2 separate regions of the Homo sapiens genome follow, and region 2 is linked to region 1. Evidence: fine-mapped expression QTL. Tissue or cell type: cerebellar hemisphere. Region 1 holds a variant in brackets; the other region holds the start of a gene. All regions are shown on one strand. Distances are from middle to middle.

Region 1 (10,046 bases):
ACCATATATCTAAGAAATCGTTATATAAGAACAAGAGAGGCTGGGCATGATGGCTCACGCCTGTAATCTCAGCACTTTGGGAGTCCCAGGTGGGACGATCACCTAAGGCCAGGAGGTTGAGACCAACCTGGGCAACATAATAAGACCTCGTCTGTAAAAAAAAAAAAAAAAAAAAAAGCCAGGTGTGGTGGTGCATGTACCTGTAGTCTTAGTTTCTTGGGAGGCTGAGGCAGGAGGATTGCTTGAGCCCAGGAGGTCAAGGCTGGAGCTGCAGTGAGCTATCATCATGCTACTGCAAGCCAGCCTGGGCAGCAGAGCAAGATCCTATCTCTTAAAAAAAATAAATAAATAAAAACAAGAATACCAGAGTGACAGAGTGAGAGTGAGGTGGGATAGGTAAGGGGCTGGGTGCTGCCCAGGAGATTCAGAGCCTTTTGTGGCCTCCACCCTAAGAGAAACAAAGAAGAAGAGTTCAGAGAGTTCTCAGTTTCCAAGATGGGAGATGGAGGAGGCCAACATCATTGTCCAGGCAGAGACTTTCCTCCTGGGCCAGGAAGGAGTCCAAAGAGGAGGGGACTACCATCAGTCACATGTTGCTTCCCCATGCCCCTACCCCTCTCCCCCTCTTGGGGGACCTTTGCAAGCAGTGAGCAGCCAGCCAGCCCAAAGAGCCAAGATTGTGGAAATCAACCAGTGGGTCATTGTCTACCAGGTGTACTTGGAAATTCACTCTTCCAGCTTAAGGCAGCTGTGGCAGATGGGTCCTGTCCCCTGACCAATGCCAGCTGATGGGTAAGCGCTGCTTGGAGCACAGTGTTGAGAAAGATTCTCAAAGTCTGGGATCCACAAGGAAGGATATTACAATAGGTTGGTGATGTCTGCTTTTACCCTGGTGCAACTGAGAGGAAGGAATGGGACATAAATATAAAAATGCTTTGTAAATTATAAAATACTACCAAATAGTAACTAATAATGGTAGCTAGCATTGCTAGTGCTTTCTAGATACCAAACACTGCTAAGAGCTATACTTGCTGCATCTCATTTAATCCTCATAATAACCTTTATGCTAGGTACTATTAATTTCCCCCATTTTACAGTTGGGAAACCAAGGCTTGTGAAAATAGCGTAACTTGCCCAAGATCACAGAGCTAATAAACAGAACTGTGGCACAAGCCTAGGCATTTCTGATGCCAAAGCAGATGGTCTTCTTCACTTTGGTCTGCTGTCTTCAGAATGTAGGGGATTATGATTATAATTATTACTATTATTAGAGCAAGTACTTTATTACTGCGTGGCTCAACCCTACTTACCCAGCTAGGAGATTAATAGGATGTGTTTGCAGTCATTTTTTAGTCTCTCTCTGAAAAGTAGGAACTTGCCTTCTGATGAGCTTTCCAGTTCCTTTTTTTCTTTTTACCCATCCACAGCTGCTGTGCAGAGCAATATTGCAGCCCTTGCTCCTGCCCAGCCCGTCAAGCCTCTAAGAAGAGCACTTTCTAGGGGCTTTCCTGTGATTGATCACACATCAGCTAGACTGAGATTTTCAAAACCTCTTGTGAATTGCCCTCTTGGTACAGAAGTATGATTCATCTCAGCACGTTTTCCATATTTGAGGGCTATGTTCCTGCAGCCTTTCTAGATACTGAGTTTGGGAAGGAATGGGCAGGTACATGTGGTAGGTGCTATTAGCTGTGATGATTACACTCATGTGGTGGTTGGCAGTTTGCAAAACGCTTTCATATCGATTTTCTCTCCAAGCCTCAGTTTTGTCATCTACAAAGTGGATATAATGACGATAATAATATAGTCAAGTCTAATCTCATGAAAGAGTTAGGCTATAATAAACCCACCACTTAAGGTGAAAATAACACAAAATCAGAATCACCCTTGACAATCGCTCATGGAATATGAAGACACACCACCTCTCAAAAGTCCAGTGTGGGCAGTTTTAAATCCAGCTTGAACACCAGTGATAACTGTTTCTTTGGTTGAAGTAATCACAGTGCCTTCTGAGGTAATGAAAATACTTATCTTCCTAGAGTAGGCTCCCCCAGCACAGAGCGCTCACACTTCCAGGGGCCAGAGAGAACTGGGGCCTCCAGGGACACTGTGAGGGCAAAGGCACACTCTGCATGAGCACGGGAGGCTCACCACCACCCTTGTAGGATTTCTCTCTTCTTTCTTGACTATGTGTCACTGAATTCTTGAAGGTGAAATAGACATAAAATCCTATCTCATTAGGTCTGATCTCCTGACTTGCTTTCTATGGACAGTATTGAAACTTAAAAGTAACATGTGATGACACAGACACCAGGCTAGGTGAGGGGAGAGCTGGGCTCAGGTCCCAGGTGGGTTTCACCTGCATCTGTGGGACTATTGATATCCAGCTCTTACAGATGAACTTCTCACCTGACTGTCCAAGTTCTCAGGCTCTATTTCTTGACTCAAACCCACAGGACCCTAGTAACCCTATTTTTAAAAAAAATCTGTGTGTGCCCACCCCTACTTCTGCCTTCCCAGCATAAGCTAACATCATCTCTGCCTGCACCACTGTGATAGCCTCCTTCCCAGCCTCCACCCCTCCTCTTGGCCTCCTAATCCCTTTTCCACTTGGCTACAAGAGAGCTTTCCAAATGCAACCTGATCTTATCACCTCCTTATAGAAAACACTTGTATTTCTAAATGCTCCTGGAGGAAAGACAGAATCCTCACCCCTGTCCACCTCTCATTCCTACCAGACTTTCCCTGCTTCTCTGTGCACCACACACACTGCTCTTCCAGGCCCTCCTATGATTCATGTTTGCTCAGCCACAGAATCTTTGCATATCTTTACTTTTCCCTCTGTCTGGAATGCTGTGTACTCCTCTTTCTACTGAGTTAACCTGTAATCCAATTTTCTCAAGAAAACCTTGCAGGCTGGATCAGATCCCCCCAGTCTGATCTGAAAGAAAGGGACTATCTTTGTACCATGTACCCCTCTTTTATGGCCTGCCACTGTAGCTTTTTTAATTTACCTGTAGTTTCGGATGAAAGTCTACATTTCCCCACCACCACACATACTTCTATAAGCTCTATGAGAGTAGGACCCCGTCCGTCTTCCTCACCAGTATATCCTCAGCACCTAGCACAAGGCTTGATTTGTGCTTGTGTTCATCATACACTTAAGTTGATGGACAGATGGACAGACAGACAGATGGACAGATGGATTGATAGGTAAGAGACTCAGATGAACATTATCAAATTATTGATCAGAGTCGATTTGTTTTTTTTTTTTTTTCCCAGTGATAAAACATTTGGGCACTTATCCTGAAGAAAGTGTTGAAATTGTTCTTTTAGAATGGAAGGGAAAAGCTACTGAAGGTTCTATTTGCCCTTTAGATAACAGACATTCCAAAGTATCTTGGCTTTTTTTTCTCCCTGCTGTTTAAAAAATCTTTTAATGAGCTTTCATGCCTTACGTAGCAAATGACCTTTTCTAGAGCCACCTACACCAAACAAAGGAATTGGAGGGTTGATATGGTTCTGCCCTTGGAAACACAGGATCAGCCCTTTGAAACAATGGCTCCTATCTGTGAGTGACCTTCCCCTCTTAGAGAAGGGCCAGATTTCAGATTTCAGCATCCTGGTGTTGAGACAATGGAGTTACTGGAGTGGGGACAACAGACACAGCCCCATTGCTGATTGGAACAGCAGGACTTGCCTGACGTGGGCCCAGCAGACATAGACTCGTGGTTGCTGGGTTGTAATGCCTCCTTCCATTCATAAATAGTGCCATTCAGGTTTGATTGTTTTCTCATACAGCTTGGTCCTGGTTATAGTGAAAGTTAAGTTTTCTCAAAACAGCAGCCTACTGAATAGGTGCTAGGGTTAGGTCAGCCTCACTTAAGTCTGACTGTGGGGTACCAGAATGAATGATCCTCAGCCTATGAAAAGGGGACATTTTCTCTGAATGAAAACAAAATCATCTTTCTCCTTGCATTTCTCATGGGAGGAGGAGGATTCTGAGATTAATTGAAAGTGGAAAGGTAGTAACGTATTTTATTCTTGGAGTTCTACTTCAGCCTGTTCCTTGCTCAAAGGCTTACTGTGGCTGCCCACCTGCCAAGCAGCTCAAATGTAAGGCCCTCCAATTCTGGTCCAGACTTCCTTCCTGGTCTTATTGCTCGTGACTCACTTTTGCATCCTGCTCACTCCAGCCAAATCAGGCTCCTTGCCCTTAAGTAAATATGCCCTTCACTTTCTAACTCGCATTCTTTCCACATACTTTCCCTCTAGCTGGATTCCACCCCCAACCCCCACCCCTCAACTGCTACCAGTTAAAATCCTACCCCTTCTCTCAGGTTCCTGTCAAAGACTCTGCTTCTGCAGGAATTCTTCCCCGATCGTCCCAGGTAGAATTTAATTTTTGGCTTTTGTAAATATCTATCGAATTTATCTGTACAGCTTTCAAGGCACTATGTTATAGGCTTGTATGTGTGTATGTGTGTTTTCCTTCCTTAAATACTTGTCTCATAGCTGTTTGTGGAGGCCATGGACTACCTTGTTCATCTTTGTCTCTCCCAGAGGTCTTTGGCCATAGTAGGCCCTCAATAATCATTGTTTGGATGAATGAATTAATAAAAACAATCCAGCTTATGTCCTCAAAACTCATGAAGAAAGTACATTTATCTAATTGTCCAAACTCCCTTGTTTAAACTTTATATGCTTTGAGCTAAATTAAGCCCTACCTGGTCCTCTTTGAAGGTAATCTTGAAGAAATTGCTTTGCTGTGTGTGTGTGTGTGTGTGTGTGAGAGAGAGAGAGAGAGTGTGCATGTGTGTGCATGTGTGTGTGTGTGAGAGAGAGAGAGAGAGAAGTTTATTAATCTACTTGGTAGATAAACAGATGTTTGAAATGATATAGTTATTTAAACCTCAAAGCAAAATCATTTCATTGCCTTTGTAGGGTTCTTTGAGAGGAAGGTGGAGGGGAGCCATCCTAAAATTTGCAGCAGAGCCTGGTCTCTAACACAGCCTCAGACTGTGGATGAAGCAGATGACCTGCTCAGCTTTCCTTCCAACATTGCTGTTTGAGCGCATACAGCCCTTTCCTTGTTTTGAAGAC[A/G]CTAGCCAGCTCAGCCAGAGATGCTCTTTGCCAAGTCTGCAGTCTTGGGATTAGAGTATGCACTTTAACAAATCTTCCTTCTTGAGCAGAATGTAGTTGGCTTGCTTCACCACCATTCTTTCCTACCTCCAAAGGCTGCCAGGCCTGCTAAATAGTGATTAAACAAAGATTAAAATTCCATTTGTGTGTGTGTGTGTGTGTGTGTGTGTGTGTGTGTTTGAACACTAATCGATTCTTTTAGTGGAATGTTAAGTAAAAGCATGCAGATACCAGAAGCAGTTATTTAGAGCAGCCAGTCAAAATCCATTGCCAATTTATTATTTAATGTGATTTCCACATTGATTCTGCCAGTCTCCTCCACACACTCTCCCTCACTTCTTGCCATGTTCCTTCCTAACCCCTTTGCTTCCTGTAGCAGAAGGACATCTGGAAACCAAGAGAAAGCAAAGTAGCAAAAGATGGTTGTTGAAGGAAAATAATTACAGCTTTTGTAGACAAATCTTTGAGCTTACAGAATTAAAGAAACTTAAAATTACCTCTGGATTGAAAAATCCAGACGTGATCTTTTACATAATATTAAGTGATTGCTATTGCATAATTGCTGTCTTTTGAGAAGCAATGTTCCTGCCTTTTCTGTTGTTAATGGTCTTGTGGCATTTGTTTCTATTGTAGAATGCCACTATTAACTAAGACTTTTTTCTTTCCTTGAAGAACACTGTGTTTCGATGTGGGCATATGACATCCTGTTAATGAGGAAATTCTAAATCCTGTTATCAGCAAGAGCCAGTTGAATTGAATCAGGTGGTAGATAGGTTGCCTCTGCAGGACCCACAGTTTTCCTTATTAGTTTCCTGTTCGCTCTCCTATTCCTCCAAACATGGTTATCACAAACACTGGAACATACCGTGTTTTCATAAACTTTCCCTAAAAATAATGTATTCATAGTTGCTCACCTTTACTAGGAGAGGACCTAACTTTGTCCCAGACACTGGGACACTTTGTCCCGGATTAGCTCAGTTAATCCTCCCAACAGATACTCTTATTCTGTTAGTTTTCTCTATTTATCAGTCAGGGAAATTGGGCTCCACCTGCCCAGGAAGTAAAACCTAGGTTTTCCTAACTCTGGAACCAGAATGTTCCAAGTCATTAAACTAGACTACCTTTCCCATTGATGAGCATTCATTCATTCATTCAGCTGGTATTTTTCAAGGGCCTAAGATTAGTCAGGTATTGGCCTAGGAAAGTGCAGTGGTGTAATGCCCCTGCCTTCAAGAAGCTTACAGTCTATTCCAGGGAGAGAACTGCAAGCTCTGGTTTGGTCCTTGGGGCTGACAAGCTGTAGGATTTAGGGCAAGTCCATTCTACTCTGTTAGCCTCAGATTTCGTATCTGTAAAATGAGGCAGCTAGATTTAGACCAAAGGTCTTCCAACTTTATTGTGAATTAGAATCACATGGAGAATGTGTTTTCTAAAAAAGGTATCTTCCTGGGCTCCTATCTGTAGACATTTTTACTTAGTAGGTTCAGGGTGTGAGTCCAGGAATTTGCATCTATAATAAGGGCCCAGGTTCTCCAAGAACCACCTTTTGAAAGAGACTGATCTTTCTGTAAACCTCATTAGGCCTACACAGTATCTGTGCTGTCAAACCTGAATCCCTGGTGCCTGACACACTGCTTTGTACAGAGTAGGTGTCAGTAAACATTTGGTGATAGTTTAGATGATCTGGGGTTTCTTAATCTGCACTATCTCTAGAAATTCCATGGATTGTCCTCAGAGGCTCCTAAACCACCTGAAATTGACCACAATTTCCATTAAGGTTTTTGGATAGGATTCTTAGGGCCCTTCAGGCTCCATGTACTCTGTAATTTTTTTTTTTTTTTTTTGAGACGGAGTCTCACTCTGTTGCCCAGGCTGGAGTGCAGTTGCACAATCGCGGCTCACCACAACCTCTGCTTCCTGAGTTCAAGTGATTCTACTGCCTCAGCCTCCCAAATAGCTGGGATTATAGGTGTGTGCCATGACACTCAGCTAATTTTTTTTTTTTTTTTTTTTTTTTTGTATTTTTAGTAGAGACACGGTTTCACCATGTTGGCCAGGCTGGTCTCAAACTGACCTCAAGTGATCCGCCCACCTCAGCCTTCCAAAGTATTGGGATTACAGGCGTAAGCCACCACACCTGACCAACTCTATAATTTTAAGACTGAAACTAGTTTTCCACCCTACTGAAGGCCCAGACCTATAACTGGGATACTTTTTAACCTATACAATAAAATTTGAGTTTTATATCTACATGATTTGGTGAGATGTCAATTTACAGTAGATTCTTAAAATCCTAAAGGAGTCAGTGTCCTCAATCCATGTGTAAATTAGGAGAGCGCTCAGGCTATACTGTTTGTGATTGTCTCCGTTCATCTGAAAGTACCTTTGGGCAGGTAGTGCTGTCTCCATTTTCCAGGTGGGAAAATTGAGGTACCTGTGACTCCTGTAGCTCATGCAAGGTCACACTCAAGGGTTCTTTCCCACTAAAAACTAACCTGGGAGTCAAAGGACATGGTTTTTATCCTCTTGCCTGCTGTGAGGCCTTGGTTGGGTAGCTTGGCTTGTTTGGACTTCAGTTCCTTTATCTGTAAGATGAGCGGAGGTGTACTAATTGTCTCTGAGCAGCTATTTAGCTCAGATGGCTGAGGACTCTAGCAGCTGCGTGCTTAGACATGTAGAACTCCCTGTGTCAGCAGGCTCCAAAGTCCTCCTGGTTTAGGGAAGGTATAAGGACCAATGAGACCTAAAACAGCATAGTTCATCTCTGCAGACCCTGGGAGGGAGGGATAGAGGGAGCAGTGTGCATCATAAGGCAAAGGCAGTGGAGTTAGGTATGAAACTCCCAGGATTTTGGAGCCTTAATTCTCAATGCCATCAGTTCAGCAATCCAGTGTTTCATTTTGAGAACATGATTCTAGGGGTTTACTTCTGTGAGGTCAAAACAGTGAGATTTATCCCTGTACCCCATTCCCAGTAGCACTGGAAGACTTTCACAAGCTTGTAGAGGAAATAGTATCCTTCATGGAATCTTAGACTCTTGAAGGGCCCTTTAAAGGTTGCCTAACCCTTGCTACTCAAAGTGTCTTTTTTGGCCCAGCAGCGTCAGCATCACCTGGGTTCTTGTTAGAAATGCAGAATCTCAGGCCCCGCCCTAGACCTACTGTGCCAGAATCAGCATTAACAAGATCCATGCATGATTCTCCTGCACATTAAAATTTGAGAAGCACTAGTCCCAACCCTGCACTTGATTCTTCTCCTTCACATCCTGATGAACACTCAATCTTTCTATTCCTGGCCACTTCTAATATCTTCTTCCAAATGGTTTTATTTCATCCTAGCAGCGACCCAACTTTTGGAATTTCTTCTCTGTCTGAGGCCCCTCAATCATTCAGTAACATCTACCATTGGCCCTTAGTGTAGCCTTAGGACTTCATGGAACAAAATAACTTCTCCCATGTCCTCCAGGGCTTCTTATCTCCTAGTCCTCATAGTTTCTAATCTTTCCCAACCAGGATACATTCCTGAATATCCCAGCATGTTTCAAGCTCACCAGGGCCAGGCAGGTAACAAAAATGAGATATGGGAGGCAGGTGAAATGCAATAAGGAATGGTAGGGACTGTGGCAAACTGGGGAGACGTGCCCCATCCACACAGCCCAGCTGATGAGCTGAGGGAAGTCAGCCCAGTACTGGCATGTCTTTTAGGTTTTCAAGAGAAGCCAAAAATCTTGATAAAACAATATGAAATCTCCCCATTTTCACACTAGAATTAAGAAAACCAAACCAAAACGAAAAGCACCTTGAAAGCCACCAGGTTGTTTGCCAGTGACCACATTTGGCCCACGGGCCTCAGGGTTTTGCAGCCTTCTATGATAATTATCTGCTCAACTTGATGTGACAACACAGATCAGGTAGGATTATCATCTGCTTCATTGTAGACCAGCAGTTCTCAAACCTCAGCGTGTATCAGAATCTCTTCGAGAGCTTGCTAAAACACGGATTGCTGGGCCCCATCCCCAGAGCTTCTGCTTCTAGAGGTCTAGGGTAAGACCCTGGGAATTTGCATTTCTGGCAAGTTCCCAGGTGGCACCCATCCTGTCCTCTTCAGATACAACACTTTGAACACCATGGCTTTAGTTTTGTGCCTTCCATTAAAAGATCCTCAGTTTGCAGAGCCTCTAGTCCCACCAGGGCTGAAGTAATCAACCAAAGTTTCCAATCTGTGGGCAGCAGAAGAGGAAAAAGAGATTGGGAGGGAGGGCTGGAGAAAGGAGAGCTAACTAGCCCCTAACTGATCAACCTTGACATCACAGAAGCAGAATATTACCTTGGGCAGGTTCCTGGCCTACCCCAAGGCTTGGTTTCTCTGTCTGTGGTATAGGGAAGTGGTCCTAGCTCAGCTTCCAGATATATTTGTTTGCTTGTGTAGGAAATTTGATATCTATTTATTTTTAGCAGAAGAGCTGTCTTCAAATGAAATCCCACATGGAACCCCAGTACATAAAACAGATGTGTTGTTGCTCTGATTGAAGAGCAGGCAGAGCAAGCCCCTACTCTCTGCCTTCCTCTTCCCAAGGCAGTGCCGGGGTCCCCTCCTGTAGAACTGTATCCTGAACTGATTAGATGGTTCCATAAGGACCTTCCAGCTCAGCTTCTGTGATTTCTAAGAATGCTGAGAACTGTTGAAAGCATGCCGCCTTAGTTTTTGTAGTTTTTTTTTCCCCTCTCTAACCAAGACATCTAGCACACCAACTTTCAGAATTATCTTCTTGCAATTCAGAGAGGTCTATAGGAGAAAGAATACAAAGGATTGTTATTATTACTAGAGCTGTTATAAAGATGTTGAGCCATTGTGGAAAACCTGCTAACACAGGGATCAGCCAGAGGCTTAATAAACAAGCGCAG
Region 2 (10,046 bases), 98 kb before region 1:
GCTTTTATTTCACCCAGCTACTAGTGCTTACATTCGACCAGGGTCTGCACGGTAAGCCCTTTATGCACATTATCTTATTTAACGCCCACAATAGGCCTAGAGGGCTCAGTCTGAAAGTAACATTTTTTGTTCAATTTCAGTCAATGACCAGATCAGTTCTCCCAGGAAACCAGCCAGAGCTAACAGACTGCCCATGTCTCAAATGGTATTGTCTCAGCGAGCGGAATAAAGCCCCAGAAGCCCACCCCCTGCCTGGTGCATCCCATATTGTACAAAGTGATCAAAGAGTCCCTGGATTAAAGCTGGGTTCTTGGGCTAGAGTCCTCATTGGGGCCAGACTGGGCTGGCATGCAGCTTTGATCAACAAGTGACATGAGAAAAAGCTCAAATCCAATTTTGTGCAGAATCTTCTAAGGAGCTAGAAGAGGGGATGGGAAGGAGAGAGATGCTGAGTATCTTCCCTCCTGTACTTGATCTTCACTGCTATACAGTACTTCACTCAACAGGGGCTTATTGAACACCTACTGTGTGCCAGACCCAGGAAAGGCCACAGCTTAGTTTGTGTGGCTGGGTGGGAATATGAGTTGAAATCCACACACCTTGGCTCTGTTCTGGCTGCTTTAGCACAAGGAGAGGGGGGATCCTTTCTGTAAGTTCTTCTGCCTGGAAGGAGCACCAGTTTTCTGATTCACAATGAAGGGAAATACAATTGTGCATGGCTTAGTGATGGGGATACGTTCTGTGAAATGTGTCAATAGGTGATTTCTCATAGAGAACATCATAAAGCATACTTGCACAAACTTTGATAGGATAGCCTAATACACATCTAGGCGACACGGTATAGCCTATTGCTCCTAGGTTACAAACCTGTACAGCATGTTTCTGTACTGAATACTGTAGGCAATTGTAACACAATGGTATTTGTGTATTTCAGCATATCTAAACATAGAAAAGGTATAGTAAAAATAGAGTATTATAGTCTTATGGGAACACCATTGGTATATACAGTTCATTGTTGACTGAAATGTTGTTGAACAGTACGTGACTTTATGTGCTGACAGAGGCACGGAACACCATAGAAGGCAAATACAAAGTTCCTGTCTGTTTGGAACTCACATTCTAGACAGGGAGACCAAAAATGATACCTGCTTTGGAGAAAAATCAAGCAAATGGAGATGGTGGTGGTGCTAGTTGATATCTTAGATCAGCTGGTCAGGGAAGCTCTCTCTGAGGCAGGACCCCTGATCTGGTTCCTGAGAGAAGGCGGAGAGAGAACCATGCAGAGGGGTAGAGGAAGAGATTTCTAGACAAGGGCACAGTAAATTTGCAAAGGCCCTGAGGGAATCATCAATTTGGTATACATTTGAGGAACATAGCAAGACCAGTGTAACTAGAAGAGAAGGAAAGAAGGCAAAAATTAGAAGTTGGGTCAAATAATGTAAGGCCTTATGGGCTGTGGTAAGGATTCTCATAGATTGTAGGTTGTTTTCTGTTTATTTGTTTTGAGAGACTTGGTCTTGCTTTGTTACCCAGGCTGGAGTGCAATTCTGTGATCATAGCTCACTGCAGCCTGAACTCCTGGGCTCAATCCTCTCACCTCAGCCTCCAGAGTAGACAGGACTACAGACACATGCCACCATGCCTGGCTTCATAGACATATTCTAACATGAAGAGAAGCCATAGGCAAGTCCCAGCAGCAGAGTTAGCCTTGTGTGTGTAAAAAGAACATTCTAGCTGCTCTGTTACCAGCACTGTGCTCAGTGCTATAGTGGCACCTAAAAGTTTTTTGCAACATTATTTAATTACATAAATACTGTGTATCCACTGCAGTATAGAAGACATAGGGCTATTCATAGCAACATTATTCACAGTAGCCAAAAGGTAGAAAGAACCCAAATGTCCATCTACTGATGAATGAATAAACAAAATGTGGCATACATACAATGGAATAGTATTCAATCTTGAAAACAGGAATGGAATTTGGCTGAGCGTAGTGGCTCACACCTGTAATACCAGCACTTTGGGAGGCCAAGGTGGGAGGATCATTTGAGGCCAGGAGTTTGAGACCAGCCTGGGAAACATAGCTAGACCCGGTCTCCACAAAAGATTTTTAAAAAATCAGCTGGGTGTGGTGGCATGGGCCTGTAGTTCTAGCTACTTAGGAGGCTGAGGTGGGAGGGTGGCTTGAGCCCAGGAGTTTGAGGCTACAACCAGCTATAATCCTATGACTGCACCAGTGACTGCACCACTGCACACCTGCCTGGGCAACATAATAAGACACTGTCAAAAAAAAAAAAAAAAAAGGAATGAAACTCAGATACATGTTACAACATGGGTGAATCTAAAAAATATTATGAGTGAAATAAACTGGAAACAAAAGAACTAATATGATATGATTCCACTTACATGAGGTACCTAGAATAGTCAAATTCAAAAAGGATAAAGTAGAATGGTGGGTAGTTGCCAGCAGTTGTGGGGAGAGGGTAATAGGGAGTTAGTGTTTAATGGGTACAGAGTTTCAGTTGGGTTGATGACCAGTTCTGGAGATAGATAGCCGTGATGGCTGCAGAACAATGTGCATTTACATAATGCCGCTGAATTGTACACTTTAAAATAGTTCAAATGATCAGTTTTACAAACGTTTATCACAAAAAAATGTGTTTAAAAAAGACATAGAGTTAGGAGCTAGAAATAGAAAAATGGCCATTCTAGGCAGAGGTAACAACAGGTGCAAAGGTACTGAGGCAGGACTGTGCCTGCCTGAGGGATGCTCTGAGGAACAACAAGGAAGCCAATGTCACTGGGGCACAATAAGGACAGTAAGGAGTGAGAGCTGATCACATATGGGCTTGTAGGGTCCTGTACTTTCTTAGGAACCTAATGAGAGGTGGGAAGCCACTACAGGGATTTGAGCAGAGGGGCGATACAATCTAACCTTGGATAAAACAAGATCATTCTGGCTGCCACATTCTTTTATTTATTTAATTAATTAATTAATTTATTTATTTATTTATTTTTTTGAGATAGAGTCTCGCTCTGTTGCCAGGCTGGAGTGCAGTGGCACGATCTCGGCTCACTGCAACCTCTGCTTCCTGGGTTCAAGCGATTCTCCTGACTCAGCCTCCCAAGTAGCTGGGATTACAGGTGCCCGCCACCACGCCCAGCTAATTTTTGTATTTTTAGTAGAGACAGGGTTTCGCCATGTTGGCCAGGATGGTCTCGATCTCTTGACCTCGTGATCTGCCCGCCTTGGCCTCCCAAAGTGCTGGGATTACATGCATTTTTAAATCTGACTCTCATTCGCCAATGGGTATAAGAAAAGCATGTACCTCACAGGGTAACTGTGAGCATTTAAAGAGGTAATGCATCTCAAGGGCTGCCTGACATAGAGTAAGCACTCAATAAAAGGTAAGCATTATTGTGATGGAAATCTAAAGAAAGAAAACAGTTCCCTGAGGAGGAGTTTTAGAAGGCTTCGTGGAGGAGGTGGCAGTTTAACTAGACACGGAAGGATGAACAAGATTTCCACCGACCTAGAGAAGGGGGTTTTATGGGTAGAAGGAGCTGCGTGGTCAACAGCACAAGAAGGAAAACACAAAGCCTGCAACAGGCTAAGCGAAGCTCAGGGCAGGGCAGGGCAGGGCACGGCAGGAGACAGAACGTTTGATCAGCCCTAGCAGGTCATAGGAGAGGAGCATGATGGACTCTAGAGCCGAGGTGATGGAAGCCTTGAAGGTTTTGCTGCAGAAATCAAGAACTGAGCTGTGATGTCAGAAAACTGAATCCCCATCGCTCAGCCTGGAGCTGGAAGAACTTGGAGGCAAGAGTTGCCAGAACGCTGGTCAAGGACTAGTGGCAGCTAGGCACGAAGGTCAGCGGCTGAGCTAGAGAAGCAGAGAATCAAGAGGACGAATGTGGGGGTGGCAGAGAGTAAGGTAGCCAAGGGGGTGCTCCGTTCCACCGCATCAGGGAGGAGGCAGCTAAGTGACCAGCGTCGAGCGCCCCGAGGAGGAGCCGCTGGCTGGCATCACCGTCGGAGTCCGGCTCCACGGCCCTCCGCATCGCCCAGAAGCCCGACTCCTCTGTCAAAGCCCTCGCCACAGTTACAGACACATTGCCTGGTCTAGTGAAATTACGTGTTTCATGTTTCAGCTCCCAGACGTCAGGGCTCAGGTCTGTTTTCATTTCATCCCAGAGCCTGGCACAGTGTTTGGCACATAGTGGCGCTCGCCAACGGTTTGCTGAGAGCTTTCCGGGAAGGGCTCAGTGCGCTTAGGATCCAAAAGCACGCGTGAGAATGCAGGGCATTCTAACTCCAAGGGGGTTGGACTTGCGTGAGGAAAGGTGCTGCAGAGAGGCTACCGTCACTTACCCACCCGCCGGTTTGCAGGATCTACAGACGGGCGGCGGCCGGGCACAGCTCCCTACAGTTTGCAGAGGGCGTTCACACCTAACGCCAGGGCCCCCCTAGAGGAAGAAAACCAGGGCCCGCCCGCGGAACAGTGAGCGTGCAGCACGGCTGTGGCCCCGTTTCATGGCCGGGAACACCGAGTCGCCGGGGTCAAAGTAGGTCCGCAGGTCCTGGGGGCCGAGCCTAGGTGGGCTGGAAGTGACAGCCCCGGGGGCTCCAGGCTCAGAACGCCCGGCGGGGCCCCAGCACTATTTGCATATCCCCAGGGAGGCAGCAAAGGTTCGGCTGCAGTCCCGGGCGGAGGTTGCCGGGCGGGGCGGCAGGGTACCCGGGCGAGCGGACATGCACCCCACCCAGCGGTGCCCAGCCCGCACCAGTTAGCGCCCAACTCGCCAACTCCGGGACTTTCGCAAAGCTCCAGAGGGCGGGGGAGCCGCCGAGGAGTGGGACGGACCATCGCGGCTCGAGAGGGGGGAAGCGCTCCGGCCCGGCATCCTGCAGCGCCCGGGCGGGCCGAGACGCTCCGTGAGAGGGCCGAGCCTGCAGCGCAGAGACTCGGCGGTCGACGCGGGGGCAGGCGGCGCGGGGCGGGCGGCTCGGCGGGGCCCGGGGGCGGTGGCGGCGGCGACGACCCCCTCGTGGCGGCGGCGTGGTGGCGGCGCCCAGCTCCCCGGCCGGCGAGCGGCGGAAGTGCCGCGGAGTTGGAGCGGGGCCGGCGCCGCAGCCGCTTCTGCTGGCTGAGCTGCTGCCGCCGCCGGGCGGACGGGCGGACGCGCGGAGCTGGGGGCGGCGCGGCGGGGCCGGCGGGGCGCGGCGGGGCTGACCGGCCCCGATGAGGCGGAAGGAGAAGCGGCTCCTGCAGGCGGTGGCGCTGGTGCTGGCGGCCCTGGTCCTCCTGCCCAACGTGGGGCTTTGGGCGCTGTACCGCGAGCGGCAGCCCGACGGCACCCCTGGGGGATCGGGGGCGGCGGTGGCGCCGGCGGCGGGACAGGTGAGTCCCCCCGTTGCTACAGGCCGGGAACACCCCCTTCCCGAATTCACTTTTAGCCTGTGGTTCCTTCCTCCACCTTCTGCTGTCTGCCTCCTCAGAGTCAGCTCCGAGACTCTTCAGCTCTTCCCATTTTCCGGATGGGAAAATTAAGTCCTGTCGGGACTTGTCCAGGGTCCCACGCCAGTCAGAGACTGAGTCCGAACTAGCACTCAGGACGCTATTTCTCACCACATGTTACCACCTTCCTTTCTGTCCCCGTCTGGTATTCCTTGACGTCTTCCAGCGGATCTCTTTTGAAGGATCCTATCTGCATCCCTGTATCCCAGGATGACTCCTGCCTTGTGCCAATAGGAATGAAGATTCTGGTTCTTCTATTTGGTGTCCAGGTCCTCTCTGCTTCCCTCCTCCCACCCCCCCCCCCCCACAACCCCTACCTGCTGATCCCAGTGTTCTTTGCTCAGGTCAGCCCTTTTCCTGATTTCTCATCTGCCCAACGAGACACCCGGGCCTTCCTCCTCTCCCCATTTATTCAACACCCCCGCCCCAACTCTAGCCTTTTCCTTTCTCAGATCCTGTGGATTCCTTGCAGAATGTAAAGATCATGCTCCCTTTAAAGCTTCAAGCCCCTGGGGGTGGAGAAGGGGGTAAGCTCCTGGTCCTTGAGGGACCTGCTGCCTTTGACCTTATGGGAGTCCAGAGGTGGGGCTCTGGTGGGGGGACCCCCAAAATGTCCCAGAGGCTATTGGTGCCCAGTGTCCTGAGGATGGAACACCAGAAGCCTTCCCTATCTCTTCTGAACTTGTCTAGTCTGGTTAGTTGTAGTGTTTATTGCAGCCAAAACTGGGATCGGAATGGTTTCTGCCTCCTTTGAACTTACCCACGTATGTTTGTGTGTATGTGTGCGTGCACGCATTTAGACTAGCAGCTCCCTCATAGCAGAAGCTCTGTCACATCACTCCCACCCTCCCAGGAGGTGCTAGTGAGTGTATTGCTTAGACTGTTTCATATAGTGGAACATTTCAGGCTTTCTTACGGGATTTCTCTGGTCCCATGAGAAGTGGATAATTTGTGTATCAGGGTCAGACTTGACTGACTGTTGGCTGGCCTCGACGAAAGAGGCTGGCTTTTCTGAGATTGATGGTTTTCCTTATTCTTCCCAGTATCAGGCTGCTGTCTAGGCAGTCTGGCATCTGGAGCACAGAGGGCTCTTTGCTACAGAGCTGACCAATTTGAGCTCCGCCTGTAACTCTGTTAATTGCTGCAAAGCATCCCAGAGGGTCTCATTGATCTTTCTGGTAGAGCTTACTGTTTAGAAACTAAGGTTTCCATCTCTTTCCTAAACCCCTGGTTCAAACCCTGACAGCTAGCTTAGACCTCTCTCCCTGAAATTCTGTATCTGTATGGATTTTCCGTTCATGAAATCTCTTTCCTCTGTTCCTATTCAGTACCAGCATCAGAGTCAGGAGTTCCAGGGTTCTGACCTCAGCTCTACCACTAACTTACTGTGTGTGTCCTTGATCACCTTTCATCTCCTTTTCTGAGCCTTACTTTCTTGGTCTGTAAACCATGATTATTGGTCCAGTTCTAACATTCTGTGATACTATCAGTTAATCAATGAGGAATACAACGGTCCCTTCTTTTTTTCTGTCTTGAGTCCAGAGTTCCTTGTAGCATCCCTAGCTGTGGAGGCTCCATACTGGACACAGCTCCAGGTCAAGGGGGAGTGTCCTACCCTAGTGCAAACTCTCCTTTAGAATAGCTGTAGCCCATTCTAAAATAGTGCTTGACATTCTGCCTCTGCTTGGAGAAAGACCTCGTATTTCATTTGCAATAGATGCCAAAGACATCCTGATTTTCATTTCTGTAGACCCAGATGGGTAGAGAAGGTCAAGGTTAACTGCCAGTTTGGCCTGAGCTTTCAAAGTAAATTACTCACTTGTGCAAGAGGGTATTGATAGAGTAAGGCAGACTTTTGGGCAGGGAGAGAGAGGGGAGCAACAGCTGGGTGCTGCTCAGAGCCCCTAACTGAAATGGATAGACAGGCTCATCTGGGAAGATCTAGTTTTTGTTCATTTCTTTTTCTCTGGAATAGCATGAAGAGGAGGAGGAAGAAGTGGTGAAGGGGGTTTGGGGGTTTGGGGGGAATACCAACTGATTATTCTTGCTTTAAAGAAAATCTCTTTGCTTCATGGGAGCAGCAGAATGGAGCTGTTTCCCCAATGATAAGCTCTTCTAGGTGCTACAGGATTCAGCATTCATCTGCTGCCTTTCAAGAACGCCCTGCCAAATTTCCACACAGCCCCTTTTTGTTTCACTCTCCCACAGATGCAGAGCACTGGGCTTGGCCCCCAGTCCGTTGTTTGAATGTCAGCTGGCCTTGAGGAAAGAGGCTGACTTCTCAGAGTGATGGTGTTCCATCCCTCATCCCAGTGTACTGGAACATACATGTAACATGCCAGGCTGCTATCTGGGAAATCTGGCATCTTGAGCATACAGAGCTTTTTCAACAGGGCTGACCAGTTCTGAGCTCAGCCTGTCATTCTTGTAATTGTTGAGAATCATCTTTGAGCATCTCGTTGATCCTTCTGGTAGAAATAACTGCAGAGGCTCTGGAGGGAAGTCTGACAGGACTTTATCCAAATGAAAAATGTGTTCCATATGGGTTTGAAAGAAGATTCTTTGAGAGTAACATATCCACTACTTGAGTAGTCCTCTAACTCCTTGATTTCTCCACTGGATTAAAGAACGGAGTTTCAAATTTATAGTGTTTATCATCTGCTAGAATGAAAGTCTACATAACTCATGCCAGCTCATCCTGGGAGTACCTCTGGAGCTGGGTGGGATAGCTGATTTATAAAGGACACATAATGCTTCTAGGATTTCAGCAGTCATCTGGTCAGACAGTTGGCTTCTTGGGAAGCTGCAAAACCAAGCAAGAAATGCCAGCCTTGAAGACATCTTCCTTTTAATTTGTGGGTCCCTCTCATTCCAAGCCCCAATCTGTTTAACATCTTGGTTTAATTCAACAGTCTGTTTCATATTCCAGGTTTGGGACAGGTTATTAAAAGCTCAAGTTAGAAACTCAGTGCAGTCTCTCCTCATTTCTGAGCCATAATCTCTTGTTGAAAAATGACTTCACTGGATAAATAGCATATGTGGAATAGAAATTGGTGGAATAATGGAATACCGGTGACTTTAATTTTCAAGTATCAGGATTTCTTTCTCATTGTGTTAGAGCTGAACTTTATTCTTAGAACATCCAGAAATCAATGTTTTTTTCTCTTTTTTCAGTCTTCCTGGTGGCAGAAGCCTTGCCCATCAGAAAGTTAAGTATAGAAATGTAGCCTTGGAACGATTTCCTTAATTTTCCACAGAAGGGCTAGTATCCTTTAGCTTGCTAATCACTCCTCTGTCTGCATGCCCAGGTGAAATCTGATGCCACTAGGGAAGGGTTGTTGATTTGCCAGAACAAATCCGGCTCCCTACATTCTTTCTGTCATTCTTGGCTTGCTGTCTACCAAGGAGTCCAGCTGAGGAAGGCCTGGGAACAGAGACCTGGCTTTTAGTCCTTTCTCCTGCCCTAAACTCACTGTGTGTCCTCAGGAAAGAGGTTTAACCTCTCTGGGCCTTGGATTCCTCATCTGCTAAGTGAGGCTTAGATTCAGAAGGGAAAAGGCAAATGCATATTGTAACGATGCTTCCCCTCCCATGGCCAGGGCAGACATTGCTAATCAACCTTTTCATTACTAATACCAGACTTGGGCTCAGACTGTTTCTCAGCAGGGCTACTCAAGTAGAGTTAACGACATATGGAAACTCATTAGCAATGTAGGGAATAGATACTGTGTTAGGGCTTTTCCAACTCTTACATCCTGAGGTTCTGTGAGTATGCTTGGAAACACATCTGAATAGTGATAGTATATTTAAACAGGCCTCTGTATCTAACTTGTAATGAGGCCACAACTTAAGGGTATGTTCATATTTGAATGTCTTTTCTCAGGCTGTAGTCTAAGGATGTTCAGCCTTTGATCTGTTGGTTCCAGTGACACGGTAACAGATAACGGAATCAGGAATGAAAAGCAAAAGCCCATTTAAAAGATAACCATCTAGCTTGCTAATTGTACCTTGTCCACAGTCAGCTCTTACACAGAGATGGCATCAGGATCTCCTCACTGAATCAAAAGCACCTTGAGGCAAACCTGGCAGCTACAAGTAAGCCCCATGGCAGCTAAATGCTCCTGACGGTGTTTGCAGAGGTTTCGTGTTTTACATATATCTGACCCTCTGCATCCCATATATGTGTCAGAACTGGTAAGGGAAGGCCTTGAATAAGAGTCTTGTTTCTCCAGAGAACCTTTCTCCTCATGCGCAGTGGAGTGGGGAAAGGAGGTAGCGCATATACACCTGAATTCCCGCAGCAAGAAGTGTATCATGGCCTCCCTGCTGGAAATGTCTTAAGGTAGGAACACATCCTCCTCTAGCACAAAGCACAAGATTTGGCTCTTGGAAGACAGGATGTGTTTGCTGAATGATTGAAATATATCAGAGCAGGCAGGGGGCTGCAGAAGTCATCTAGTCCAATCTCCTCAATTTGTAGGTATGAAAACTGAGGCCGAGAAAAAGGGAAACAAATTAAACAAGTTC

Direction of the effects. Alleles are on the strand shown, and positions count from the first base shown. SD is a standard deviation of normalised expression in the study named.
For the expression in cerebellar hemisphere of the gene that starts at base 5,110 in region 2, allele A in region 1 goes with a higher level than allele G (small effect, 0.31 SD a copy in GTEx).

The links. PIP is the estimated chance that this variant, and not a neighbour inherited with it, causes the effect.
Region 2: GALNT10 starts here. The variant in region 1 is fine-mapped to the expression of GALNT10 in cerebellar hemisphere (GTEx, PIP above 0.99). The same link has a PIP of 0.9 or more in cerebellum.

The regions. Positions count from the first base shown.
Region 1 is chr5:154,283,124-154,293,169 of GRCh38, forward strand. The region is part of intron 1 of GALNT10 (polypeptide N-acetylgalactosaminyltransferase 10); the gene reads left to right. Among named protein-coding and RNA genes, the nearest start is that of MIR1294, 59 kb to the right of the region's middle. RefSeq lists a silencer at 2,566-2,860. The variant A/G (reference allele first, on the strand shown) is at 5,104.
Region 2 is chr5:154,185,624-154,195,669 of GRCh38, forward strand. It overlaps GALNT10 (polypeptide N-acetylgalactosaminyltransferase 10), which reads left to right and starts at 5,110. Exons shown (of 12, transcript NM_198321.4): 1 at 5,110-5,402. The coding sequence starts at 5,244. It overlaps LOC124901118 (a long non-coding RNA gene), which reads right to left and starts at 4,456. Exons shown (of 2, transcript XR_007059010.1): 1 at 4,373-4,456. RefSeq lists an enhancer at 3,520-4,485 and silencers at 4,706-4,795, 4,886-4,985, 4,996-5,105, 5,196-5,275, 5,346-5,405.